Regions from separate parts of the Homo sapiens genome. Here all the other regions are linked to region 3. Evidence: fine-mapped QTL for protein levels in blood plasma. A gene starts in region 3. Each other region holds a variant in brackets. All regions are shown on one strand. Distances are between the middles of the regions.

Evidence for each region. PIP is the chance, under the fine-mapping model, that this variant and not a neighbour inherited with it causes the effect. Protein levels are from antibody-based Olink assays in UK Biobank. Linkage for the fine-mapping came from a reference panel and not from the study's own genotypes, which makes the PIPs less certain.
Region 1: its variant is fine-mapped to the plasma level of the MSMB protein (UK Biobank, PIP above 0.99).
Region 2: its variant is fine-mapped to the plasma level of the MSMB protein (UK Biobank, PIP above 0.99).
Region 4: its variant is fine-mapped to the plasma level of the MSMB protein (UK Biobank, PIP above 0.99).
Region 5: its variant is fine-mapped to the plasma level of the MSMB protein (UK Biobank, PIP above 0.99).
Region 6: its variant is fine-mapped to the plasma level of the MSMB protein (UK Biobank, PIP above 0.99).
Region 7: its variant is fine-mapped to the plasma level of the MSMB protein (UK Biobank, PIP 0.97).

Annotation. Positions count from the first base shown.
Region 1 is chr10:46,198,247-46,202,318 of GRCh38, reverse strand. It overlaps LOC124902418 (a long non-coding RNA gene), which reads left to right. Exons shown (of 2, transcript XR_007062137.1): 2 at 1-4,072. Among named protein-coding and RNA genes, the nearest start is that of ANTXRL, 87 kb to the left of the region's middle. The variant ATT/T (reference allele first, on the strand shown) is at 2,520.
Region 2 is chr10:46,193,300-46,197,263 of GRCh38, reverse strand. LOC124902418 (a long non-coding RNA gene) reads left to right here. Exons shown (of 2, transcript XR_007062137.1): 2 at 1-3,964. Among named protein-coding and RNA genes, the nearest start is that of ANTXRL, 92 kb to the left of the region's middle. The variant A/T (reference allele first, on the strand shown) is at 1,672.
Region 3 is chr10:46,043,849-46,047,920 of GRCh38, reverse strand. MSMB (microseminoprotein beta) reads left to right here and starts at 1,652. Exons shown (of 4, transcript NM_002443.4): 1 at 1,652-1,686. The coding sequence starts at 1,684. RefSeq lists an enhancer at 3,202-3,703.
Region 4 is chr10:46,188,014-46,192,085 of GRCh38, reverse strand. LOC124902418 (a long non-coding RNA gene) reads left to right here. Exons shown (of 2, transcript XR_007062137.1): 2 at 1-4,072. Among named protein-coding and RNA genes, the nearest start is that of ANTXRL, 97 kb to the left of the region's middle. The variant C/A (reference allele first, on the strand shown) is at 2,074.
Region 5 is chr10:46,175,991-46,180,062 of GRCh38, reverse strand. It overlaps LOC124902418 (a long non-coding RNA gene), which reads left to right. Exons shown (of 2, transcript XR_007062137.1): 2 at 1-4,072. Among named protein-coding and RNA genes, the nearest start is that of ANTXRL, 110 kb to the left of the region's middle. The variant AT/T (reference allele first, on the strand shown) is at 2,204.
Region 6 is chr10:46,239,378-46,243,449 of GRCh38, reverse strand. It overlaps the pseudogene ANTXRLP1. Among named protein-coding and RNA genes, the nearest start is that of ANTXRL, 46 kb to the left of the region's middle. RefSeq lists an enhancer at 3,843-3,942. The variant T/C (reference allele first, on the strand shown) is at 2,392.
Region 7 is chr10:46,181,009-46,185,080 of GRCh38, reverse strand. LOC124902418 (a long non-coding RNA gene) reads left to right here. Exons shown (of 2, transcript XR_007062137.1): 2 at 1-4,072. Among named protein-coding and RNA genes, the nearest start is that of ANTXRL, 100 kb to the left of the region's middle. The variant T/G (reference allele first, on the strand shown) is at 1,824.

The DNA of each region.
Region 1 (4,072 bases), 150 kb before region 3:
TATTCCTAATAAATAATGTTTATCTTCCTAGTCACAAACCAAACAGAAAGCAAATTTCATCAGAGTTTAGAATGGTTAAAACCAACATAGCTGCAATATTTTTATTTTTGTTTTAAAATTTTGTTTAATCAGTAAATCAATCAGAGTTGACCATTATGTAATCCACAGACCTTGAAATAACAGATATATTTCTCTGCAGATCAATATCTATATACATTTTTAAGATGAGTAGAAATTCTCCTGAAGGTCATAAAGAAAAAGTATGTCACATAATACAGTAAATAAAAATAATAATTGTTATTAATTTTTTCTGCTTATTATGTTCCAGAATCTGTACTAAGCATTTTAGAGGATTATTTTATTTAATTCCCACAATAATCCCTTGAGAAATATACTACAGTTATTATCTTTAATTCACAGTTACTGAAAATGAGACACAAAGAGGTTAAGAATTTTGTCCAAGGTCAGGCAGCTAGCGTGACTTAGCAAGGGTGTAATTAAGAAAAAATATGTTTTTCTTATCTTATGGGAAATTTGGAAAAGCAAATATCTACATTCTCTTTTTAATTAAAAAATATAAAATATAAAATGTGAGTCTCTCTTAAAGCAGCGAATCAACTTTAATTAAATTGAAACAATACACAATCCTTTGTTGTTCAGGCTCTATATTATTATTATCTCTGCTGACAGCAAAAGCTAAGAATAGAAAATATTTCTGATCCAAGTTGGTAAATTATGAATCAACCTGCTAAAGAATCAGAATAGACTAACAAATGGAATTAAATGTGATTATTGTATATTACATATATAATATAAAAATTTCTTATTGTTATAGTTTTACTAAGATTCTACCAGTTTCAACTCAAATATAACATTTAAAATCCAAGCTTAATAAAAGAACTTGGCATGAGATGTTTTCATAGGAAATAGTGACAATTCATATTATTTTTAATTAAGTGTAAATGAGATGTATTATTTCTGTATTTCATTTTCCTTCTAAAAGTTATCTTTAAAGTTTTTTTTCTTTCTTTTTTTCTTTTTCTTTTTCTTTTCTTTTTCTTTTTTTTTTTTTGAGACGGAGTCTCGCTCTTTCGCCCAGGCCGGACTGCAGTGGCGCGATCTCAGCTCACTGCAAGCTCCGCCTCCCGGGTTCACGCCATTCTGCTGCCTCAGCCTCCCGAGTAGCTGGGACTACAGGCGCCCGCCACCACGCCAGGCTAATTTTTTGTAGAGACAGGGTTATTTTTTGTATTTTTAGTAGAGATGGGGTTTCACCATGTTAGCCAGGATGGTCTCGATCACCTGACCTCGTGATCCGCCTGCCTCAGCCTCCCAAAGTGCTGGGATTACAGGCGTGAGCCACCCCGCCCGGCCTAAAGTTTCACTTTTTCTGAAGTTGATAGCTATTACTAACTGTTTTGAGCAAAGTTTTTTGAGATAGATTAATTTATAAAATTAGGAAGAAACTAAAGTAGTTGCGAAAGTTTCTAAAAAGATAATAAAGTAGTTGTCTCTATGTTATAATAGAAAATGAGAATGTGAATGCAGATCATTTTGATTCTCAGAGTTTGTGTTTTCAGCAAATATTACCTGAATATTGATATATAAATTAGAATTCCCCAAAGGAAAACATTTAAAAATGTTAAAATTAATAAAATCATTAACTTACATACTTGTCCTTAGTATCAGGACAATCTCCAGTGGATTCAACAGAGCATCTGCAGTTTTGTTGAACAAAGTCTATATTCTGCAATATAGACTCATGGTGTGAGCTTACTGGTCACATTCTTTGTTCCTTCTTGGAGCTTTGGGAGGCATTTATAAAAGAGCTGCTGCAGTAGAAGGACTGAGTTGTATCACCCTGAGGATTTAAGTTTCTATGGAGAGAATCAAATTCACTTTAGTATAGGGATTTAGTAGGTTTCCCTAGCCTTATTAATAAAATACTAGTACGACATGAAAAATGCATACTTTGTCTTAAAATAATCCAATTAAGACACTATTTTTGCATAGCAAAATTCTTTACCAAACACCAGTTGCAAATCAAGTGAAACTGCTTTGGCAAGAGGTGATCATAACGCTCTCCTACTCCTGCCCTTTCCTCCTACTCCAGCTGAAAATACTTGCTGCAAATGTCCTTTTATAGGAGACTTTGACTCCAAGGTGTAGAAAAGGAAAGGAAAAGGTCAGATATATATGTCTTGTCTATAACTGAAACCTAATACCAGCACAAAAGCCTAAAAGAACCGATGTTTAGAGGGCGTTGGCAGGAAACTCTTTGCTCTGCTATCATCTGTTTTAAGCTACTTTGATACATGATTTATTTTTTCAGCTTCTACTCTGCTACTATTCAACTGCAAATGCAATTTGTTATATTGTACACTTCAACACCTTGAACAATATCTTAATTATTTTTGAAATGTATTACAAGTTCATAAAGAAAACAGCATTTTGTTTCTTCAGTCATCTACTTTGGATGAACGTGTTATTTAGAAAAGAATAAATGGGAAAAATGATAT[ATT/T]AAAAATAAAAATTGCATATTAACTTTTTAGATCAAATAAACCAATTTTAAGCATTTTCATGGACATTTATAACGAAAATAGATAAACATTTAAATACAGATGATTTAATTCAGTATTTTGTTTCTTGAAAATATTGGAATATGTGTTTTAGATAATGCATATATTTCTGTTATTGAAAAATAAGCTTTCAATAGTCAGCTGACTTCATATGTAAATAATAATACCATTTTAAACTTATTCAAGGATTTAGGTGTCCTTAAATATGATTTTATAACTTATTTTACTCCCTTAAAGTAAATATTTATGGCATCTGTAAGTCATTGTAAAATTGTAAAACTGGCATAGCATAGTATACAGATTGTCCTTTGTAATATTTTATAGTATTCACATTTGTATTTAATCACAAATTTGATACAATTTAGCCAAACCTTCAATACATTTATGAAGAGGGCACTAGTGAGACTTTATACAATGGAATAAAATAACAAAATGTGCTGACAGCATTTTTCCACTCAAAGAGGTATATATATTTTTTATACTATCTAATTCTTTAACTAACTTTATTTTTTTAGCATCCAGTGGTGGAGAACATTACTGGAAGTGTGATTAAGGCTATTATAAGATACATAAACTGTATGGCATAAGCATTTTCAACTCAACTTCACACTCTACATTGTTTATGAACTTAGTATGCCAGCTTTTTAAGTGTGGTGGGATCTGGTATTCCACACTTATATGTCTCTGAATCCCACCCTTGTACTGATGCCAAGATGAACTGAAGCAAGGATGAATTTTTCTCTTACATAGAAACATGAATATATTCCGAACTGGAGTGAGCTCTCACTAGCGGTTTGCCTATGGTGATTACTTTGTGCCTTGTAATGGGTCATGTAGTATCCTCATAAGGGAGTGTCTGTGTCCTAGACCCTCTCCCATTCCAGTACCTGTAAATGTCACCTTATTTTGAAATAGGAGCTTTACAGATATAATAAAGTTAAAGAACTCAGGGTGAGATCATCTGAATTTAGAGTGAGTCATGGGTAGTTGGGACACAGAAACACAAGCAAGGTCATGTGAAGATAGAGACAAAGGTTAGAGTTATGCTGTCACAAGCCAAGGAGTGCCAGGAGCCACCAGAAGCTAGAAGAGGCAAGAAAGGATTCTTCCCTAGAGGCATCAGAGGAAGTATGCCTCTGCCTCCACCTTGATTTTGGTCTTCTGGCCTCCTATAATTGAGAGAGAATTTTTTGTTTGTTTGTTTGTTTGTTTTACTATTTTAAGCCACAAATTTTGTAGCAATTTCTTTTGGCAGCACTGGGAAACTAGTTAATGCCTCTATTATTTGGTTAAACAAAAAACATTATTAAGTATTTTTAAAACAATGTATAACAGTGTTGATTATGGTAAGCATACAATTTATAATTAGATAGGTTTCTGTGTAAAATTTCATGTTACTGTATTGATTTGTTTTAACCACACAAGACTTGCTTGGATGTGGTACTATTGAATACCATCCCCATTCCCTCCTGTCCCACAGCTTTTTGAAATTT
Region 2 (3,964 bases), 150 kb before region 3:
AACAAGCATGTTGTCCAAGCTACTGCTGCCAACCAGGTCACATCCATTAGTGAAGTCAATGCTGTGAAGAGAGACATTCAAACCTGGGTCACTGATAATATCATTTTCAATTTCTGACCCAATCAATTCTGGGTCTCCCAATTCCTCTCTCCGTGGTCTTATTGTAGTAATACGTTTTTTAAACTGTTGAAGTCACATTGAGCGGAAATTTCCCTTAATTACAACTCTTAATATTTTAACTATTTATGCTAAGTTTATTTGTTCCAGAAAAAGTACTTTAATTCACTTTCATTTTTGTAGGACTTGAATTTTTTAGGGCAGTTTCAGTTTCACAGAAAAATTAAGAGGAAGATAGAGATTTACCATATATATATATATATAGTTATATATATTATATATGATAATATACCATATATTACTATATATGTCTTACATGTATGTGGAGGCAGGGTGTATGTTTTTTTATATATATAAAATATATATATACACACACCCTGACATAATGTGTATATATAATATATATATAATTATATATATTATAAATATATATTATATATGTAATATATCCTGCCTCCACATGCATGGCCTCCTTCATTATCATATCCTCCTCCAGAGTGGTACAACTGTTAAAATTGCCTCACCTACATTAATACAATTTTATTACCCAGTGGTAAATATACATAACATAAAAGGTACCATTTAATCATTTTCAATTCTAAAACTCAGTGATATTGAATACATTCACAATGTTGTATAATTAACACTGTTTTCATAACTTTTGTATCACATCAAACAGAAGTTCTGTACCATTAAGCACTAATTCTTCATTCCCCTTGCCCCAGCCTCCATGCTCTGGAAACATGCAATCTGCATTCCCTCTACATGAATTTGACTATTCATGATCTTTCATATAAGTAGAATCATATACTGTTTGTCCTTTTGTGTCTGGCTTATTTTATTTAGCATAATGTTTTCAAGGTTTATCCATGTTGTAAACATGTATCAGAACATCATTCCCTTTTTATGGCTAAATAATATTCCCTTGTATGTACATGCCACATTTTGTTTATCCACACATACAGGTTTGTTTTCACTTTTTGACTCTTGTGAATAAGAATGAGTGATGTTATCTGGCGTGTGCATGCAGCCACTTTCTTACTAAAGACCAATAGCATCAAGCACTCTACTAATGGTTGTTATTTATCTGATTAGGATCCAGAGTTCCAAAAAGGTTAATTCTTATTTTTTGCAGTTTAATGGCAGTTTTTGTGGAGGGACTGACTTCTAAAACTTCCAATCTTCTAAAATCCACTTTAAAAGAATGGTTTAAATTATGTGCTTGTAGGATGAAATTGATAAAAAATTATTTTACCAACTTTCAAAATTGCATCACAGAGATAATGTCCTTTGACTATTGGGTGTTCACATATTTGGCATGTTATAAACAACTTTCTGGAAGATAAAGGCCTTTTGTCTCATACTTAATATTAAGACAGGAACCAGTGTGCTAGCAATGGCTTTTGGGTTTGATGTGATATATTTGTATGTAATGATTTTTTTAAAAGTTAGAGTGAAAAATCCTCTCATACAAAACAAAATAGTTTTTACTGTTATGAGAAAGCAGTCATTAATCACTTACAAAACATGCAAGTATCTTTATGATATTTGGTG[A/T]TTTATTTTTCTCCAGTCATCTTGTGGAAAAAGTTTAGGTCTCTGAAGATTTCTCAGTGCGTCATAACTGACAGCAGCAGGAATGTGGTTTTGCTAAAGGCAACAGAAAAGCAAAACTGTCTCAAGGTTTTAATATTAATCCAAAGGTTAAACTTTCTTACCTTAATGTTGCTGCTTTCTGTATGCACATCCCAAAGGAGGTAGGAAGGTGGAAAGGACGGAGGAAGGTAGAAAATGTAGAAAATTAGAAAATTAGGTAAACTTAAAAGGTAATAAGACTAACATTCATTCATTCACATTAAGCTCCTACCTTGTACCACATTCTGTTGTAGGCCCTGTGGATATAACACAGGGCCTTTCCTTTTTTCCTGTGAAAAAAAGGAAAGAAAAAAATATATGCCTTTTTGGAGCTTACATTCTCTTGGAAGGAGATATATAATAACATAAAAAATTAAACTATATAATATGTTAAGTGTTGCTAAGTGCTATGGAGGAAAGTAAAGCAGACAAAGCAAATAAAGAACACGAGAAGGAGATACAATTTTAAGTAGGGAAATAAGGAAGGCATGACAGAGACAGTAGCATTTGAGTGAAAGACTTGAAGAAGGTGATGTGGTTTGACTGGGTCCCCCACTAAATCTAAAGCTTGAATTGTAGTTCCCGTAATCCCTTAATGTGTCATGGGAGGGACCTGGTGGGAGACAATTGAATCATGGGGGCAGTTACCCCCATGCTGCTGTTCTTGTGATATGAGTGAGTTCTCATGTTCTCTGAGGGTTTTATCAGGGTTTTTTCCCCCATTTTGCTTGGCACTTCTCCTTGCTGCCACCATGTGAAGAAGGATGTATTGCTTCCCCTTCCACCATGATTGTAAGTTTCCTGAGGTCTCACCAGCTGTGCAGAACTGTGACTCAATTAAACTTCTTTCCTTTATAAATTACCCAGTCTAGGATATGTTTTTATTAGCGGCATGAGAAGGAACTAATCCAGGAGGTAAGGAAACAATCCAGGGGGGAATTTGAAGACAGGTGTTTTCAGTCAGAGAAACCATGTACAAAGCATCTAACGTGACAGTGCTATGGTCTGAATGTTGACAACCCCCCCAAATTCATACGTTGAAGTCTAATTCCAGTATGATACTATTAAAAGTTAAGGTCTTTGGAAGGTGATTATGTCATGAATACAGAGCCTTCATGAAGGAGATTGGTGCCTTTATAAAGGATGCCTGAGGGGATTGGTTTGTCCCTTCCACCATATGATGACTCCACCATATGAAGAATAAGATGGGTCTATGAACTAGGAAATAGGGCCTCATCATATACGGAATATGTCAGCACTTTGATCTGGGACTTAGCTTCCAGAATTGTGAAAAATAAATTTCTGTCATTTATAAGCTACTTAGTCTATGGTATTTTGTTATAGCTGCTCGAATGGACTAACACAGAGACAATTCCCAGGCTGCCCAAAGAGCACCAGGAAGTGTTGGGTGCAGTAAAGATGGAACAGAGGCACAAGGGGAAGAGCAACAGGGCTGTGATCAAAGAGGTGTGCCTGGTGGGGAGCATGAGTAGAGCTGTATAATCTGTACAATAATGACTGAGAGTGGAATTAGAAGTCCTTAAAAGTGAGTGAGCAGAGTGGCATGATCTCTATGATATTATGTTATATTCTTGCTTGGGTATTGAGAATAGACTGAAGGTGAGGGCTAATGCAGAAGCAGGAAGGGGGATAAAAATTCAGATGAGACATGATGTTGGCTAGGCCTGGGTGGATAACAGCAGTAGTAAAAATTATTTAAATGTTTTGAAGGTAGGTTTGCTGAGAAGTAAAGGATGTGTGGAGATTATTGGATTGAGAATTGTATAAGGACTGTATTGTATATTGTATGAGATTGTAGATCCAGGATGAGTCACAGTATTTTTGAAGTTGTAGTAAATGGAATGAACTAGAAAGATAGAAGTTAATGTTCAGAAGGCAGGAAACTTAAAAGTTAGATTGTAAAAATTTGCAATTAGGAGTAATAACATGGTTTGAGCTGAGATCATGAGATTGAATAGCTAGATACTGAAGATAGCAAGTACGTTGGAAATGACGAGGTCAAATGTCAAAGAAGATAAGTAATTTAAATGAGATATCAAAATAATGGCAGTAAGTCAGGTTGTAAAGACTTCAAAGAATGAGGGAAAGTGACTAAACATTGGGAGAGTGATCAATATAATCAAATGGTATGAGATTCCAAGCTGGAGGGGTTTGAGGAGAAGGAAGTAGAAGTATTCTGCAAGAGGACACTTAT
Region 3 (4,072 bases):
GAGAGGAGAGTGTTTGTGGAGCCGAGGTTTGTGCCTGTACCCTGGAGGTAAGCAGGTGAGGGCAGCAAATCCTAGTTCCTCTCAATGTAAGGCAGAACTTCCCACTTCACACTGTGGGAAGTTCTTCAAACTTGGAGTTTTAAAAGAATCCAAGGGGCTACAGTGCATGATGAATGTGCCCCGATTTCCTGGAACTTAGAGTCGATGAACACTTAACTTATGCAGGTAAAGGCAGAAGTGTGTGGCACCGTTGGTGAGTGAGGAGGCAGCCAGACAGCACTACAGCTCTTCTAAGGAGCAGGAGAGTGACCTCAAGCTGTGTTAGGGGTGGTGAGGCTGATTTTAGGGAGGGTAGAGGATGGTGCTGGAAAGGGCCACTGTGGCCAGCTCAGATGAGCTTCAAGGATCCCCTGGTTAGGAGCATGAACTCTCATCTGTGGGCAGAGGGATCTCAGGTTAAATTTTAGGAACTGTAGCAAGCTGTGGCGAGGAGTGAGGGGACTTTTTGGGATAAAATTGTCTTATGAGCTCAATTGCATCCCCTAAAAATTCATTGGTTTAAGCCCTAACCCCCAATATCCCAGAATGTGACTGTAATGGAGACACGGCCTTTAAAGAGGTGGCTTAGGTAAAATGAGATAGTTAGAGTGGACCCTAATCCAATACAGCTAGTGTCCTTATCAGAAGAGGAAATTTGGACACAGAGAGAGATGCCAGGGATGCATGCCATGTAAGAGGCAGCAAGAGCATGGCCATCTGCAAACCAAAGAGAGAGGGCTCAGAGGAAAACAAGCCTTCCCCAATGGCTTGACCTCACATTTCTAGTCTCCAGAACTGTGAGCAAATAAATTTCTTTAGTCAAAGCCACCCAGTTGCAGTGTTTTGTTGTGGTGGCAGAGCAAACAGATAAAGTAGTAAGTCCCTCCAGCACCCTAGGAGGTTCTGCTTGTTGCCATTCCCCAAAGGCCATCCTAGCCATGATGAGGGCAGGTGCGGTTGTTTGGGAGGAGACCACTGTGGAACAAAGAGAAACAAGGCTTGCTTGATGCAGCAGGGAGTAGACTACAGATTCAAGAAGGGCTCTAGAAAGGTCCAGCAATTCAGCTTGTCAGGGAACCCCGAGCTGTATGTAGTTCTTGCTCTCCTGTGCCCTGCAGGATGGCTTGACCCATTTCTGTTCTCATGTCAGACCCTAAGGGCAGGGTCATCTGGGCCACAGACCCAGGCCCGGTGGGCCTGGTGGGCTGACCTGTGGGCTATTCTTATGCCTTCAGGAAACCCACCTTTACCACCTGGCTGTTGTGACTGGCATCGCTGAGGCTGTTTCTTTGTGTATAAAATCGAATAAGGACACATCACGTGCTAGCAATCCACCAGCATAGGGCGAAGGCTCAGCAAAGAGAAGTTCTCTCCTCCTCTGCTCTTTTAGGTCAGCAGCAAATGCAGATCGGGGTGGGGACAAGGTAAACACATAACTTGGGTGGAGATGTGATTGATTAATAACTCATAAATCATCTGAAACCATACTTTCCTTTTGATAGTCAACCCTCTGTAAACACTCAATGTGTTCTCACCTTGTTATCATTCCCAATGATGTCGAATGCGTGGTTGCCCTCTCCAGTATAAAAGTTTGATGCAGCTTTGCCTGGATGTACCTGTCTATAAGGAGTCCTGCTTATCACAATGGTAGGTAACTGGTTTTATATATAAAGGCTAGAAAAGCAAAAGAGAATATGTATTCCTATTTTAATATGCGTGTGCTTCTACCACATAGCATTGAATGGTAAATGTGACCTAGTTAGGAACCTTATGTTATTACCTGCAATTCAATGTGCAGAGTATGAGAGTCTGAGAGCTTGCGAAAATTGTAATGAGTTTAGCACTAGTTCTGTTCTCTAAGATCTAAGTTGTTTTTCCTTCCAGTAATTCTGGGGTTCAATTAGATTTCATAAGTGTCTCTAATTCTTGGGTCCTATGTGAGTAATTTGAAATTAAAAATAATTTCAGAGCTACATGACTGCATCGTTTTTGAGATGAGGGAACTGAGCCTGGGGAGGGGAAGAAGCTGCCACTGGGGTCTCACCGCAAGCCTGTGAATGAGCTGAGATAGGAACCCAGGCATTCCTCTCTCCCTGCCAGGGGCTCCCAAACTTGGCTGTGCAGTGGAAACTCCGGGGGAATTTTGAAGAACACTGACACCCATCTTCCACCCCGACACTCTGATTTAATTGGGCTGCAGTGAGAACAGAGCATCAATTTAAAAAGCTGCCCAGGTCATTTTAATACTCAAGTTTGGGAACCATTTCCCTAGGCCCTTTTCACTGTATCATGTGTTAAGGAAAAATCTTGGGTTTGGGGCTGTGTTTGTTGGTTTATTTGTTTGTTTTTGAGACAGGATCTCACTCTGTTGCCCAGGCTGGAGTGCAGTGGTGCAGTCATGATTCACTGCAGCCTGGACCTTCCTGGGCTCAGGTGATCCTCCCATCTCAGCTTCCCAAGTAGCTGGGACCACAGGCGAGTGCCACCATGCCCGACTAATTTTTGTATTTGTTTTAGAGATAGGATTTTGCTATGCTGCCCAGGCTGGTCTTGAACTCCTGGGCTCATGCAATCTGCCCACCTCAGCCTCCCAAAGTGGTGGGATTACTGGTGTGAACCACTGTGCCTGGCCAAGAAAGAATTTTGCTTCAAAATTTATAAAAACCCATGCAGGCTTTTCTTGTGTCTTAAACTTGATCTTTCTTAAAACATTCTTTACTAACGCTGGGGACTGAACTGGGCTGCTCTGGGGGCTGCAAGGGAGATGAGGCAAGAAACAGCCAGCCAAGTGGGAGGAGCCAAGGGAGGTGGGAGAGGGTCCTCAGGAGGGGACCCCGGGCCTCCTCTGGGCCACTCGGCAAGACAAACTTGCTCTCAGAAACTGTCCGGAGGCAGAACTGGGGATGGTAAAACAACAGTGGGGTGGGAGGTCCTCCCCATCTCCACTAGACAGGCTCCTCCAGCCTATACTCTATGCAGCCTCACAGTGAACTTAGCAAGCTGCAGAGCTGGCAATACCTCTGCCTGCCTAAGATCCTGAGGACCCCCAACTCTTTATTTATTTATTTATTTATTTTATTATTGTTATTTGTAGTAGAGATGAGTTTTTACTATGTTGCCCAGGCTGGTCTCTAACTCTTGGGCCCAAGTGATCCTCCCACCTTGGCTTCCCAAAGTGCTGGGATTACAGGTGTGAGAAATTATGCCTGGCCAGACCCCCAACTCTTGATCATGGGATAACCCTTCCAGGAGCAGTAATTTACCTAAAGAGATACAACTTTTTTTTTTTTTTTTTTTTTTTTTTTTCTGAGACGGAGTCTCTCTGTCGCCCAGGCTGGAGTGCAGTGGCGCAATCTCGGCTCACTGCAAGCTCCACCTCCCGGGTTCACGCCATTCTCCTGCCTCAGCCTCCTGAGTAGCTGGGACTACAGGCGCCCGCCACCACGCCCAGCTAATTTTTTGTATTTTTAGTAGAGACGGGGTTTCACCATGTTAGCCAGGATGGTCTCGATCTCCTGACCTCATGATCCACCCGCCTCGGCCTCCCAAAGTGCTGGGATTACAGGCGTGAGCCACCGCGCCCAGCCAAGAGACACAACTTCTAAGGATACTGCCAGCCTGCTTCACCTCAAGGCTCGCTGTACCATCTAGAAAATCCTAGCCCATTCTGGCGTCGTGGTGTAATCTCCTGCACACATCAGGAGCTCAGGGTTACTAAATGCAGGAAAGGAAGACACAAAGGGAAGGAAGGCTGGTGGCAGAATAGAAGACAGGAATGAAAAAAGCTTTAGAGCCTCTCTACTCAGGGGTGGACCTCAGACCAGCAGCGTGGGCATCACCTGGGAGCTTCCGTGTAAGTCTAAAGACCTACTGAAGCAGAATCTGCAGGTTAATTAACAGGCTGTCTGGTTGGGCGCGGTGGCTCACGCCCATAATCCCAGCACTTTGGGAGGCCGAGGCGGGCGGATCATTTGAGGTCAGGTATTTGAGACCAGCCTGGCCAACATGATGAAACTACGTCTCTACTACAAAT
Region 4 (4,072 bases), 140 kb before region 3:
TTTTGGTATATACCTATAAATTGAATCACGATGTCATTGGGTATTTGTGCAGTTTAACTTTATAAGAAATTGCCAAACTTCTTTAAAATATAGCTGTAAATTTACTCTCCCACCACGAATGTATGAGATTTTCTTTGTTTCATAGCCTTTTCAACACTTGCTATATTCAGTCCCCAATTTTTTTTCTTAAGAGATGGGGTCTTGCTCCATCACACAGGCTGGAGTGGAGTGGCACAATCATAGCTCACTGCAGCCTTGAACTCCTGGGCTCAAGCTATCCTCCCATATCGGTCTCCAGGTATTTAGCCATTTTAATTTTACCAGTTCTCTTGGATATGTAATGACATCTCATTGAGGTTTTTATTTTCATTTTTTCTGATGACCAACTATGTTCAGCACATTTTCTTTTCCTGATTCCCCATTTGGCTGTCTTCTTTTATGAACTGACCGTTCAAGTCTTTTGCCCACTTCTAATTGAGTGATGTATCTTCTGCATAACAATTTGTAGGATTTATTTACTTTCCATAGAAATATTTTGTCAGGTCTGTGTATTTCAAATGTGTTATCTCACTGTGACATTTCTATTCATTTTTCATTGAGGTAAAAACATAACTTGTGATCTATCCTCTTAGTAAGGTTTTAAATGTACACTATAGCACCGTTAAGTATAGGCGTGATGTTGCACAGAAAATCTTTAGAACTTACGCAACTTACACAACTGAAACTTTATACCTGTTGAACAGCAACCCTTCTTCCTCCTTCCCCTAACCATTCTATTCTCTATTTCTATGAGTTTGACTATTTTAGAAAGCTCATATGTGTGAAATCATGCAGAATTTATCCTTCTGTGACTGGCTTATCACGCTTAGCATGATATCCTCCAGGTTCATTCATGTTCTTGCAGATGGCAGAATGTCCTTGCTTCTTAAAGCTGAAAATATTCCATTGTATTTATACGCCACATTTTCTTTATTCATTTATGTGCTGATGGACATTTAAGTTTTCAGATTTTGTTGTTTTGTGAGTAATGCTGCAAAGAACATGGGTATGCAGGTAACTCTACCACATCCTGATTTCCATTCTTTTGGAATGGAAATTCCAAATTACCCCTCCTAATAAGTGGTAAGTGATATCATATTTTGGTTTTTATTTGTATCTCTTTGATCATTAGTGACGTTGAACATCTTTTCATATACCTTTTGGCTATTTGTATGTCTTTGAAGAAAATTTATTCAATCATTTTGCCTCCCTTTTTAAGTTATTTTTTTCTGTTGTTAGGAGTTCCTTATATATGTAATGAGGTTTTTTTGAATAAATGAATATAAGTTTAATATAGTAAAAACATTAACAATTTTTATTTTTATGTTTAATACATTTTGTGCTCTCGAAAAAAAATCATTATTTATCTCACTCAAGATCATTATGATGTTCCTCAAAGTATTCTTCTAGAAGCTTTAGCATTTATATTTGGGTCTGTGATCCATCTTACATTGAATTTTGTGCATGATATGAGTGAGATATTAAGATTAATGAAAATGCTAATTATAATAGATTCTCAGGTCCTAGCCAAAGCTTTTGTATATTGGGATCTCTTGAGATCTAGGTTATTTAAAGGTAATAGACGATCAGTATTAATGAATTTGTTTTCTTTTTCCATCTGGTGGTTCTCAACCTTTGTTCCATATTATCATCAAGTGGTTTGCTTGCTTGCTTCTTTTTGTCATTGCTTTTAGTAGCACTGCCTCAATCCTACCTTCAAAAATTCTAATTTGATAACCTGGACATCAGGATTTTTGGGGAGAAGGGGACAGGGTCTCACTTTGTCACCTGGGCTAGTGTACAGTGGCATGATCATAGCTCACTGCAGCCGCAAACTCCTGGGCTTGAGGGATGCTTCTGCCTCAGCCTCTCGTGTAGCTTGAATTACAGGCTTGAGCCACCATGCCTGGTGACATTGGGATTGTAATGGGTCTCCAGGTGAATCTAATATAAAGCCAAGTTTAGGAATCATTGACAAGCTCCAAAAGCCTGGAAAAAATGTATACATGAAGATAGAGGTTAGTGTTACTCTCT[C/A]CTTGGATGAAAACACCTGACAAGTTTTATTGATTTATTGGGAAACAACGCTGGAAGCAGTTTCTCCTCTGCCTCTTTAATCCCTTGGCCAGTGCAATCTTGAGTTAAGCATAGACTCACTATTAAGTCTTGTAGGGTGAATACATCTTTACTTCAACTTTTCATCCACTTTATCTTCATCTCGGAGAATTATTGTGAAAAAAAAAGTTCTCAGTGTATAACTCATATTAAGTAAAAGACATATAATATATTGTAATAATTCAGCAAATATTGCTTGTGGTGTTTTACCTACTTTACACTTGTGGAAAGTTTAAGGAAAAATTTTAAATAGTCCTACATTATTTTCATAGAAGAATCACAGTAAAATAAGAACTTTGCAAGTCCACCATTTTACTACGTTGCATTATTTGAAAAGAAAACTAATTTTGAAGTGTCTGATGATTTCAAAACACAGTTCACTATTATTTAATTAGTGAAAGGAGATGCATGCGAGGATTTGAAATAGAATTTTTAACATTGACTTAGATACTTTCCCTAAATGTATTAGACATAAAAGTAAATGGTATTTATATATTTGTTTGTAAGATGCTATAATTTTAAATTTAAATGTCTATGTAGCTTTTTCTGAAAGAAGCTGTTCTACTATCATAGAAGCAATTTTGGGGCATTTCTCTTACTTGATTGACTCTTTTCTTATCCAGATGCTACCCATTTTCAAGATTGCACAGACTCCACTTCTATAAGGGAACTCAGCCCACAAGGCTCTCATGTACGTCAGTAACATCTATATCTTTATTATACCACATATGCCTTGCCCTATCAAATGAAATTGTATACCACGAAGTCAGGACCATATCTCACCTCCTCTGTAAACTCCACAATGCACAGCATAGTGTTACTCATGGGAAAAATGAAATACTTTTGATTGAAATGGGTTAACATTCTTCTCATGTTAAGGAACATACTTCTTTAATTGTACCTGTTGTTATGCCGGTTGTAAGACTTACTCTTTTCTCCAGAGTTGATATCAATAATTTCAAAACATATAAGAATTGAAGATAAATGGGGAAACAAACAATTTATGAAGGTCAAAACTATGAAGTAAATTTCAGTTCATGGTTATTTGGTAGAAAAACTAGGTTGGAGAGTATGGTTCACATTTGAGACCAAATTAAATATTATTTAATAGATTTCTTTCACACTTAGTTGAAGGAAAGCATGCAGTAAAAATTTAGCTTGACCAAAAACCTGACTTGCTCTTGGCAAAAATTGTGGTGGAGAGAGAGAGAGAGAGAGAGAGAATGAATAACCTCTACCCTGTGGGAGGGTCTTTCCATTCCAAATGGCACAAGTAGAGAATCTGATGAATCCGAGCCTAGGAAAGTCAAAAAGGAAGCAGACTGGCATCCAGTCATTGAAGACAATAAACCTGAACACTAAGAAGACATGATTAAATAAATGTCAGGTTCTGAACAATTAAACTGGTTACTTCTGTTACATTGAAGTAAAGAGAGAATACCTTGGAGTCTAACATAGTTTTCCAAATAAAAAGATAATGAGGCAGAAGATGACACTTTGTTTACTAAATTTTCTAGTTCATACTGAATAGTTTAAGTAGAACTTGAAAGCCAAGGTCTCAGGGAACCATTTTTAAAGTGCTTTTCAAAGAGCTCATATTAAAATAATTATTTTATATGTAAATAACAAATAATTAGATATGAGGCTCACAAATGAAATATTTATGTTCATATAATATGGCTAATGTATGGTAACAATAGTATTAAATCTATAGATCTATGATGGGAGAATTACTAGAAAAGCAATAGTAGGTCTCCCAATCCATGAGCATGGAATGATTTTCCATTTGCTTAGATTATTAGTTTTCAGCATACAGTCCTTACACACATTTTGCTAAATTTATTTCCAAGGGTTTATTTGTATAGTATTGTGAATATAATTATTTTCTTAATTTTTTTAAGAGATAAAGTGTCTTTCTCTA
Region 5 (4,072 bases), 130 kb before region 3:
AAGCTTTCATGTGGTAATCTGAGGTGAATATTGACATAGAATTAGAATTATAACTCACATAAATTCACACAAAAACATTTTTACATTGCCTACTGATTTTTATACATATAACCAAGAAATAAAGTATATGGTGGCTACCTTTCTCTAGGGATTTATAGGGTAATTAGACAAACTCTTCCAATAATTATAAAAATAAGAACTGAAATAACAAGTGCATATTCTGAATTACAAAAATCATTCAAAGTAACAAAAAGCTTATATCTTTGATCCCAATAACCTATTTTAATTTTCTTTTTAAAATAAAAATGTTAGAGGCAAAACAAAAGTGCCATAACTAAACCAAGTACAGACAAAGGAAATAGGAATGAGAAACAGTGTATGTGTGTTTGTATGTGTGGGCATGCCTATAGGTATAGTTGTGTGTGAATTAAAGTGAACACACTTGTTAATTGAATAAAATACAGTAAGTGTTTGTATATGTATCTGCATGTTTGTGTTGTATTTTGGAGTTGTTATTCAGCTTTTACAGAATGTTCAAATAGAAAACCAAATAGGATTGTCACCTATATTGCATAAATAACCAGAGAAAAGTCACTTAAGTGGCCATAAAAGAAATGTTGAAAATAAATGCAGAGAATTATATTTAGAGTAAGAATACCCACATGTATTACAGTCCCCAAAAAGCAATTAAGCAGAAGAAATTGCTTTTAGAGCTTGGAAAGATTTAAAGTGTTACCATTAAAGTTTGAGTTGGGTGTTACTCCATGAAGAGAATATATCCTTAAACACTGCTGCCCTGTGCAGAACATACTCACTTTGTGGACAAAGACATAAAGGCCCTGATACTGGACCTGTTGCTGGTTAGAAATGTCTTCCCATGACAAATGGGATCTAATTAAACTAAAAGGCTTCTGCACAGCAAAAGAAACTACCATCAGAGTGAACAGGCAACCTACAGAATGGGAGAAAAATTTTGCGATCTATCCATCTGACAAAGGACTAATATCCAGAGTTTACAAAGAATTTAAACAAATTCACAAGAGAAAAACAACCCCATCAAAAAGTGGGCGAAGGAAATGAATAGACACTTTTCAAAAGAAGGCATTTATGTGGCCAAAAACATATGAAAAAAGCTCATCATTACAGAAATGGTCATTACAGAAATGCAAATCAAAACCACAATGAGATACCATCTCGGGCCAGTTAGAATGGTGATCATTAAAAAGTCAGGAAACAACAGATGCTGGAGAGGATGTGGAGAAATAGGAACACTTTTACACTGTTGGTGGGAGTGTAAATTAGTTCAGCCATTGTGGAAGACAGTGTGGTGATTCCTCAAGGATCTAGAACTAGAAATACCATTTGCCCCAGTAATCCAATTACTGGGTATATACCCAAAGGATTATAAATCATCTACTATAAAGACATATGCACACATATGTTTATTGCAGCACTATTCACAACAGCAAAGACTTGGGACCAACCCAAATGTCCATCAATGATAGACTGGGTAAAGAAAATGTGGCACATATACACCATGGAATGCTATGCAGCCATATAAAAGAATGAGTTCGTTATTTGCAGGGACATGGATGAAGCTGGAAACCATCATTCTCAGCAAACTAACACAGGAACAGAAAACCAAACACCACATGTTCTCACTCAGAAGTGGGAGTTGAACAATGACAACATATGGGCACATGGAGGGAAACATCACACACTGGGGCCTGTCGGGGGGTGGGGGGCAAGGGTAGGGATAGCATTAAGAGAAATACCTAATGTAGATGACAGGTTGATGGGCAGCAAACCACCATGGTACACATATACCTATACAATAAGCCTGCACCTTCTACACATGTATAACTTAAGTATCATAGAAAGAAATGTCTTCGTTAATAATATTTCTCACCTTTTCTAGATATAAATTTAATTCACAATTGGGCAGGGCATGGTGCCTCACACCTATAATCCAAGCACTTTGGGAGGCTGAGGCAGGCGGATCACCTGAGGTTAGGAGTTCAAGACCAGCCTGGGCAACATTGTGAAACCCCATCTCTACTAAAAATACAAAAATTACTACTTGGGAGGCTGAGATAGGAGAGTCGCTTGAACCCAGGAGGCAGAGGTTTCAGTGAGCCAAGATCGCGCCACCACACTCCAGCCTGGGCAATAGAGCGATGCTCCATCTTAAAAAAAAAAAAAA[AT/T]CAAAATAAAATAAAATAAAAAATAAAAATAAAATTTAATTCACAGTTGTAACCAGCCTAAATTAAAAATATTTCTTAAGCAAAAGATTGAGACTTTATGTTTTAGATAATTGTGTTTTTATGACAGAATACCTACACACACAAACAAACAAACTAAAGAACTTTTTCTGTTATATACCAAATCATACTTTTATTAGTGTGGTTAATTTTATCTTTCTCTCTGTGTGTTTCTCTCTCTCATCAATTTATTTATTATCTATCTCTTAATCAATCCATCCATTCATCCTTCCATTCAATCTTCTATTACTTTTAATATTTTTAAATAAACTGCCTTGTTGTTGTGATTTGTATTAATGTAGACTGGCAGAGCATGATATGACAGACTTTTATTTGCATGGAATCTCCTGAAATCAGCTAATAATTCACTATGGACTCTATTTACTCAGATTAATAACTGTGCAGAAATGTCATTATCTGAAGAGCACAAATCTGGGGACAGACAGAATTTTAGTCATGGGCTCTGTCATTGACTGACTGTGTGATTTTGGTTGCTTAAATAATCTAGACTCTAGTCTCCTCAATTATAAGACAGGAATAATAATGGACTTAACTTTATTATATGTTAAGCAACATAAATTGCTTCGGGTATTCAAAAAAGATAATTAATGCTGTGGATTAGGAATCTGAAATAGAAGCTTGAATTCCCAGGAGCGAAACAAATTTAGCAATACTTGCACGACTATTGGAGAACCAGGCCACTTAACAGGTATACATATGCCCCTCTGGCTACCTCCTAGATATTTTCTGCCACATCAGCAGTAGGCAGAGGACCAGTTGGCTTAGTGTCTATATTGTTTACATGTGGCAGCTCAAACAATGTGATATGAATATGAACTAAGGAGGGAGACACTTCACACTTAACATCTGTTCTTCAGTTTCCCCAACAGGATTCCTCCAAATGTGAAAGGAAACTCATCAATAACAAGCTGAGAAATGAGTCTAAACAACTGACATTTTGGAATAACATATTTGACATTTGTGAGGTCCACCGGTTGTGGCTTAATCAAGAAAGCCATCAGATATCCACAGTATCCATCTTTTAGGCATACACATCTAAAAAACACATCCATTTGTCTTAATTTAAATCCATATTTTAACTTTCAAAATATTATTTCATGGATATTTTGCCACACAATTATGCTAGTTTTTACTATTTTCTCCCCTAATGTGTAAAAGAACAAGAGAATACAAATTCCTTGGCATGTCAGTTATTTAGTCATTTCAGATTTTGATATTTCCAGAAGTCATAAGAGGATTCTTCTCTCACAGATGTAATTATAAAACACATTTGATTTACCAACTTTTAGTCTTCTGTTTTCTACAAATTAGCTGTCTTGTGCAAATGGAGAAATAGCATATGTATTTGGTACTAAGTTTCTCTCGTAGTTGTCAGAACCTCACCAGGTCTGATTTTATTGTTTTGTAAGAACTGGGCTTTAAAAAAAGTCAGACCATATGATAATTTTGATATTAAAACTCTTCTGAAAGACTAAGTGAATGAACTAGTCATCTATATTCACTGATTAAAAACAAAATAAGACAAACTTACTCCATAGTATAGTACTTTGGGTTTGTCTAATTAAAAAAAATTCATTTACAAATACCATTTCTGAGGAACAATAGCATTTCTCTAGGATACATCTACATACATGCAAGTGAAGAAAATAGCTTTTGTGTTTACTTTATGTCTTGTAGGAGTTGTATAGCTACATAAGAGTATTGTAATGCAAGAGGTACATCATAAAAACTGCTTTGTTATATGTTGTGTGCATGTATATTTGTGCATTTACATATCAACAGCATACTCA
Region 6 (4,072 bases), 200 kb before region 3:
AGATTTGTTTTGTGACCTGACATATGGTCTATCTTGGATAATGTTCTATTTGCTGATTAGAAGAACATGTATTCTGCAGTTGTTGGATGAAATATTCTGTAGATGTCTCCTAGGTCCATTTGTTCTAAGCTGTAGGTTAAATTTATTTTTTCCTTGTTGGTTTTCTTTGTGGATGACATGTCTAATGGTGAGAGTGAACTGTTGAAGTCCCCAAAAATTACTGTATTGAAGTCTATTAGATTTAATAATATTTGCATTATGTATATGGGGGCTCTGGTGTTGGGTGCATATATCTTTAGAATTGTTGTATTTTCTTGCTGAATTGATCCCTTTATCATTATATAATATGACCTTCTTTGTCACTTTTTAATGCTTTTGTCTTAAAGTCTGTTTTATCTGATATAAGTATAGCTACTTCTACTCACTTTTGGTTTCTATTTGTGTGATATATCTTTTTTCATTCCTTTCCTTTTAGTCTACATGTGTTTACATGTGAAGTGAGTTTCTTGTATGCAGCATATAGTTGGGGCATTTTCAAAATTCATTCAGCCAGATTTTATCTTTTAAGTGGAAAATTTAATCCATTTACATTCAAGGTTATTATTGATATATGAAGACTTATTTCTGTCATTTTGTTAAATGTTTTCTGATTGTTTTGTATATTTTTCCTTTCTTTCTCTCTTGTAGTTTATCATTATGGTGTGCTGGTTTTCTATAGTGGTAACATTTGAGTTCTTTTTCTTATTTCTGTGTTTACTCTACCAGCAAGTTTTAGACTTTTGTATGTTTTCATGACGGTAGCTATCATTCATTCACTTCCAGGCATAGGACTCCCTTAAGTATTTCTTCTAAGGCTGGTCTAGTGATGATGAATTCCCTCAGGTTTTGCTTGTGTGGAAAAAACTTTATTTCACATTTTTTAAAGATAAAGAATAATGTTGTTAGGTATAGTATTATTGGCTGACAGGTTTTTTGGCCCCCTTTTTAGGGGGGAAATATATTATCCCATTCTCTCCTGTATTATCCCATTCTCTCCTGGCCTATAAGGTTACTGCTGAGAAATTAACTGTTCTTCTGATCGGGCTTCCTATATATGTGACCAGAGCTTTTTCCTTTCTCTTACTCTTTTTAGAATTCTCTGTTTGACTTTTGACAGTTTACTATAATGTGCTGTGGAAAAGACCTTTTGAGTTTTTAATTACCTGTGAATTTCTAAACTTCTTGTATCTGAATGTTAAATCTCTTACTAAATTTGGGAAGTTTTCAGCTATTATTTTGTTAATCAGGTTTTCTATACCTTGGGTCTCTTCACCATTTGGAACACCCCAAATTTCTGTTTTTGGTTGCTTTATAGTGTCCCGTATGTTCTGTAAGTTTAGTTCATTGTTTTTTATTCTTTTGTGTGAGTAGGGCATGGGGACGGGGGCTCTGGCTGGGTTATTTCAAAAGGTCTGCCTTCAAGTTCTGAGATGCTTTCTTCTTTTTGCTCCACTCTACTGTGGAAGCTCTTGAATAAATTTTTATTTTGTTCATTGAATTCTTCACTTTCAGAATTTCTGTTTGATTCTTTTTTCTATTATATCTGTTTCTCTGGTGAATTTTTCATTCATATCCTCAGTTGATTTCTAACTTTTTGTATTGTTTATGTCCTCTTGTGTCTTACTGAGCTTTTATAATATCATTTTTAAAAATTATTTTTCCCACGTTTCATAAATTTTTTTTCCAGTGAAATCTGTTGCTAAAGAATTATTGTAATCTTTTGGAAGTGTCATATTTCCTTGTTTAGTCATGTTTCTTGCGTTTTACATTGATATCTGCACATCTTTTGTAACAGTTGCTTCTTCATACATTTTGGATTGGCTTTTTCCTGAAGATATTTCCATGGTTTTTATTGGGTAGGACACTTTAGCTTTGCTTCTAAGTGTATGAAGTAATGTAGTGTCTCTATGATTTCTTCACCTCTAAGCAGTATCAGTGGTGTGTGATTTCCCTAGTGGCTTAGGCTGTGGTTGTTAGTGGAGGCTATGATGATGTTTTGCTGCGGTTGGGGATGTTAGGTGGGTGTGCCCTCAAACCCTGATGGTGGCAGTGGCAGGGTAAATGTACCTCTCCTTGTGACCCCAGGCAGTGTACACAGGCACTAGTGTCAGCAGGTACAAATGGGCCAGTTCTTAGGCCTCCATGTGGCTGGCTTGGGTGCTGGCAGTCATAGTGGTAGGCCTGGCCAGCGGGCAGGTCCTTCCCTTGGCAGCATGTGTGGAGTGAGTGTTGACAATAGCAACAACACAGCAACTCTAAGGCTCTGAAGCAACACACATCAGTGTTAGTGATGGCTGGGTAGGCCAGTTCCCTAAACCCAAAGTGGTACATGCAAATGGATGCTGGCTGTGG[T/C]GGTAGTGGTAGACTGAGTGGGTCCATCATCAGGCCCCTAGGAGGAGTACATAGAGGCCAGCAATGGTGAACAGAGTGGGGGTAATCCCTAGGCCCCCAGGCAGTGTGCTTGGGCACTGAGGTAAGCAGTGTCAAGGTGGGTGGGTGTATCCTCAGGCCCCTCAATGGAACACTCAGGTGATGGCTGTGGTTGGCAAAATGGAGGGGTCCCCAGGCCCACTGGCAGAGTGCTCAAGTGGCTGTGGCAGTGGCAGCAGTGGGCCAGGGGAAACTGTCCTCAGGGTATGTGCAAATGGCTGGGCCATAGGCAGGTTGCTTACAGTGGCTCCAGCCATAGGCAGGAGTTCTCAGGATCTGGGAAGTGTGAGATTCAGCCCCTAGCTGTTGAGGGGTGGCAGCAGCAGTGGTAGCAGCAGCAACAGGGAAAACCAGTAGTAAAGGGGATGCAAGTATGCGTGGCTCTGCTGCCCAAAAAGGGCAAAGTCACTGTCAAGTGGCATGTGCTTTGGCCCCAGTGACAGCAACAACAGATGCAGTGAGCAGTAGCAGACCCTGCCCTCAAGGCATGTGCATGGCAGCCTTACTGCTGGGGTGGGAACAGGGTTGCTGTCCATGATAACTGCCCCAGGTAGACAGTTTTCAAGCTCTAAGAAACCCACACTTTGGCTCCTTTTTCTCTGAGGGCAGCCTCTCAGCACACTGGGGAGGCAGCCTCCCTATTGTGCTGCACTGTCCATTCCCCAAGATGCAGGACACTGTGTGTGCTAGAGTGCTAGGGAGGCTCTGCTGGGTCCAACTGGCATTGCACTACTGAAGCCCTACAGGTGAACACAGGGAGATGTCAGTGGGACTCTAGAGATGTGGAAATGCAGGGGCTGTTGGTTTCCAGTGCAGGATGCAGTCTGGTGGTGGCTGGGCTCTCCAAATGGCAGAGAGCTACAGCTGCCTAAGACCTGGGGACTGGGACCCACATGAGCTCCCTCTGAAGCAGTGCTGTTACATGGTCTCTAGGCACCTTCCTACGCTAGTCTCAGGGCCTATGAGGGTTGAGGGGTTTTCCTTTGGCTATGGTTATAAAATCCATGGTCAGAATGTCAACCGCTGTGGATCTCTCACTAACCTTTTTCTTGCACTAGGGAGCCACTCTGGGTTCCCAGCCAATCCCAGCCAAGCTTGCTGCCTCACTTTCTTCCATTTTCATGCCTCAGTTATTTCCCATCATTTATCTATTGAATTCCAGCGTTCACTCTTAGATGTTCTTCTTGAAGTGTGATTACTTGCTATTTTTATTTTTCTTTGTGGAGGAGGTGAGTTCTTGATGCCTCTAGTCAGCCATCTTGAAGCCTCTCCAGCCTTTTGCAGTTTTACTTATCTTCTGACACCAAATCTGTCAAAAGAAAAATTTAAACAAATTAAATGTAACAGAGTTTAACTGATCAAGAAAAAAATGTGTCTCAGACAACATCAGAATCAGAACAGATTCAGAGAGGGTCTGTGGCTACCATATGGTCAGATATGATGTATGGTCAGAAAAAGAAATGACATACAGAAAATGAAAGTGAAGTACAAACATCTGGATTAGTTACACCTTGGCATTTGCCTTATTTGAACATGGTTTGAACAATTGGCTCCTTATGAGTGGTTGAAGCATGGCTGCTGTGATTGGCTAAGACTCAGCTAT
Region 7 (4,072 bases), 140 kb before region 3:
ACATAAATTAAGAAAACAAAATACATCATGCTCAATAATAAGGATTCTGAGTAGAAACTCACCAGTTCACCTTAGCTATATTTTCCCTTTTGGGTTTCTTTTCTTTTACTTTTTTCTCTCTCTCTCCTTTTTCTTTAAAAATTTTGGAGTGTAAACATATACATCATCTTAATTTGAGTCCTTATGTGTTGACGGTGTGCAGGGAAGAATGGGAAAGTAACTGTTAAGTGGAGCTCAGAAAGAGCTAACAAATTCTTGAAAAAGTGAGATTATTGCTGGTCTTTCAATTTTTTTTTTTAACTTTCTGTTTCCTCACACTCTTCCGTACTAAATGAATTTTATATATATATATTTTTTTGGTTGTTGTTGTTGTTGTTGTTGTTGTTGTTGTTTTGTGATACACAGTTTTGCTATTGTTGCCCAGGCTGGCATGATCTTGGCTCACCGCAGCCTCCACCTCCTGAGTTCAAGTGATTCTCCTACCTCAGCCTCCCAAGTAGCTGGGATTACAGGCATGCACCACCGCGCCCGGCTCATTTTTTGTATTTTTAGTAGAGACGGGGTTTCTCCATGGTGGTCAGGCTGTTCGCAAACTCCCGAACTCAGGTGATATGCCCGCCTTGGCCTCCCAAAGTGCTGGGATTACAGGCGTGAGCCACCGTGCCCGGCCGACAGGTGTTTACGAGTTACAGACTATGTGCTTTGAGAATGAGGCAACCGATTTAAGGATGTAAGCATAATTTAAGGATATTGAAAATGATATAGGAATAAACTTGGTTTAGTCATTCATGGATTTATTCATTCTTCAGATGACTATGTGTGTGAATATTTAAGAATTCTAAAACCACATGGGGTTACTTATAACTATATAGGAGCCTAACACAATAATGGAATCAGAATATACTTTGCTGAAGGGAGGAGGCTTTTAAATGAAAATCTTCTCTCTACGTTTTTATGTTTCTAGCAAGAATCCACTGAAGACCCACATTTCCCCGAAGGTTAACAGCCCCCTTCTCAGTTTTTCTGGTAAAGTGTTTTTATATTGGTGGAACACCTGTCACACTCTGTATTTTTCTTATCTCAAGTAGAAAAAATTTTGCCCTTTTACTTGGGACTGTTAACAGCCCTGGTAGTGGAAAAGTAGAAGGAAATGATTCTGTGAATTTTCTGTTATATAAATTTTAGCCAATTTAGGGCTTTTGAATGAGGGGCCATACAGCCAAGGATTTAGGATTTCAGCTCAGGAAAGAAAACTACATAGGTGTTTAATTGTGTCCTAGCCATTTATTAGCTGGGTAACTTTGAGCAAGTTTTATATATATCCTTCCCATGAGTTTTTCATTTCTAATACTGGCTTAGTAATACAGTATGTTTCATAGACTTGCTGTAATAATTGATGGAGTGTATCTAATAGTGTTTATTTTACTGTAACTGGGCCACAGTTTGGAAGTACTCAATTAAAATTAGCTGTCATTATTCCTAGTATTAATATGGTGATGAACAGCTAAAGAGCATTTAAATAATTATCATTAATATGGATAAATTTTGAGTATACCTGAATAAATATTTATAATATAACTGTTGAGAATATACAAGTTTAATATTTTAGGGAAATACAATGTCAAATTCTATGAAGCTCTATTCTCACACTAAAACAATAACAGTTTGCTTTCAGATATTTTGAATATTATTGTGACATTTCCCCCTTCTACCTTTCTGGGACCTCGGATATAGGAACCATGTAAGGGTAAATATTCTAGGTCTTCGTTTTGGGACAGGGGTGATATACTACAGTTCCACAGGGGCTGAGCCAGGTTTCAAGG[T/G]TGAGAGAGCTGATGGTAAAAATAACAATGAGAGCAAAGGCCAAAATGTATGGAATATTTATTATGTGTCAGACATTTTTCACTAAGCATTCTAGTACAATATTTCTTCAGATCTATGAGGATCTTAATCTTAAGTAGTAAATGGTTTTATTATAACCACTATACAAAATAGAAACACTAACATAAAAAGGTTAAATAATCTGTTTAAATTATCTTGGATTAGGAACCCAATTAGCTGTGTCCTTAGAACAGAAGCTGGTAGCACTACACTGAACTATACCACACTTGCAAGCCTTCAGAGGAAAATTCCCTAAGAGAAAATGGTATCTATGACTCAATATTTCTTCCCATACCCTCAGTGACTTACGGTATTTATTTACTAAATGCCAAAGCAGATAGTCCAATAGGAAATATGTAGCTAAATGGCCTGGGAAGAGAAGGGAATGTCAAATAACAGGCAAAATAGAATCTGACACCCTAGGTCTCAGCAAGTGTTTTGAATGGACAATAAAGAAAGTGACTAGAATATAACCTCTGAAAAAATGTTGTGAAGCACCAATGGACTTGAAAAAATCTAGGGAGCTGATGTAAAGGACATCCACTTCATACTGACAATTGTTGAACAAATTACTTGTTGGAGATGGAGTTGCAGACAAAACAGATATTTACCACTGCTTTAAAATATGTTTATTTACTCAGGAGAAGAGTCTGGAACTGTGGTTTCAGAACGAGCTTATCCAACAGTAAGAAGAGGACTGGGGCATACCTTTTAAAATAATAATGATATATTTATATCCTAGTGTGATTTATTTACCTTTTAGTAAATCAAGTTCTCAGAAAAATAAAGTAAAAAAATCTTAACATTACATATGCAGGACTTAATCTGAATAATCATAAATTTTCATAAACATAATTTACATACCACACCATAGTAGCTGTGATATAGTAAATTCATAAGTTTTCTGACTATGGTTTAGCTCTTTCATTCTAAGAATAAAAAAGATTCTATTATGTCACAAGACATGTATCTGGATGGTTAAAAAAATCCAATCATACATAACTGAAGAAAATATAGGTATTTTAGTGGAATAAGAATGTGATATACAAAAACAGAAAAATAAATAACTTCAATGTTACTTAAAGAAATAGAACTAACAAAGATGCATCATGGAAGAGAGGATAGTTCTCTAAAAACACATAAAATAACTTTCTAAGATGAAAATTTTACATATATAAAAGCATTTGTCAATGAAAGTAATAATAATTCCATTCATGCATTTGTTCATGTATAACCAATAACTTTCTTGTGATGTCATAGAAAAAATTCAAGCATCAAATCAAAAAGCAAATTTTATTACGTAAGAAACAGTGGCCTTTAAACTGACAATATATTTGTTTGAATAAAAAATATTATTACTTTAAAATAATCAAATTAGCAAAATACATGAACATCTTAATTTTTGGTATGTGTTTAAATATCAGGACATTTACTCATATTCTTCATAAACAGAGTCATAAGTCTTAGTAGATGCTGCCATGTGTAGGCAGGTTGTCTTCTCTAATTATCCTCAGTCCCCACCATTCCATAGTGTCCCCAGTAGAGATACTACTGACATTTTTCATTTGTTGCCATAATTCAGCTGTTGTTTTTCATAGTCAGCTTGCCTTCTTTATTTTAATATTTATATACCATGTAGGCATCTCAGTGTTTCACTCTTGCTGTGAGACAGCCATAGATCCCTTTTGACCTAGAGTTTTTTATTCTTTCTTTTTCAAAATTATTTTCCCTAAAAGAATGGAACCTATAAGCCTCCAAATAGTGCATTTAAACTCAATCACATCTAGAAAACAATGCTAAACTATTCAGAAAGAATGAAGAGAATAAGTGAATTCTCCAAACCCAGAGCTAATGAGTGCCAGCTCTGAAAATGAAGTCCTTGATTCTTGACATCTGGCCTAGTGTGCCTAGGAAGTATAATCGGTTACTCTGACTCAGTCATTTTAATAATTGAAGTAAACTACTTAACAGTTAAACATTATATACTTAAAATACTTAAATTAGCTTAGATATAATCAAAGAATTTCGCTTTTTAATTCCAAATAATGAAGTGTTTGGTTGTAGGGTATTAGATCTTTCATGGAAGAAAGTAGTCCCACAAGTCTAAGTACAAATTTCAAATGTAAAATAAAACTGATCAAGCCAGAGACCAGGTTTGGCAAAAAGTATCACATGATATGACTTGTAAAAT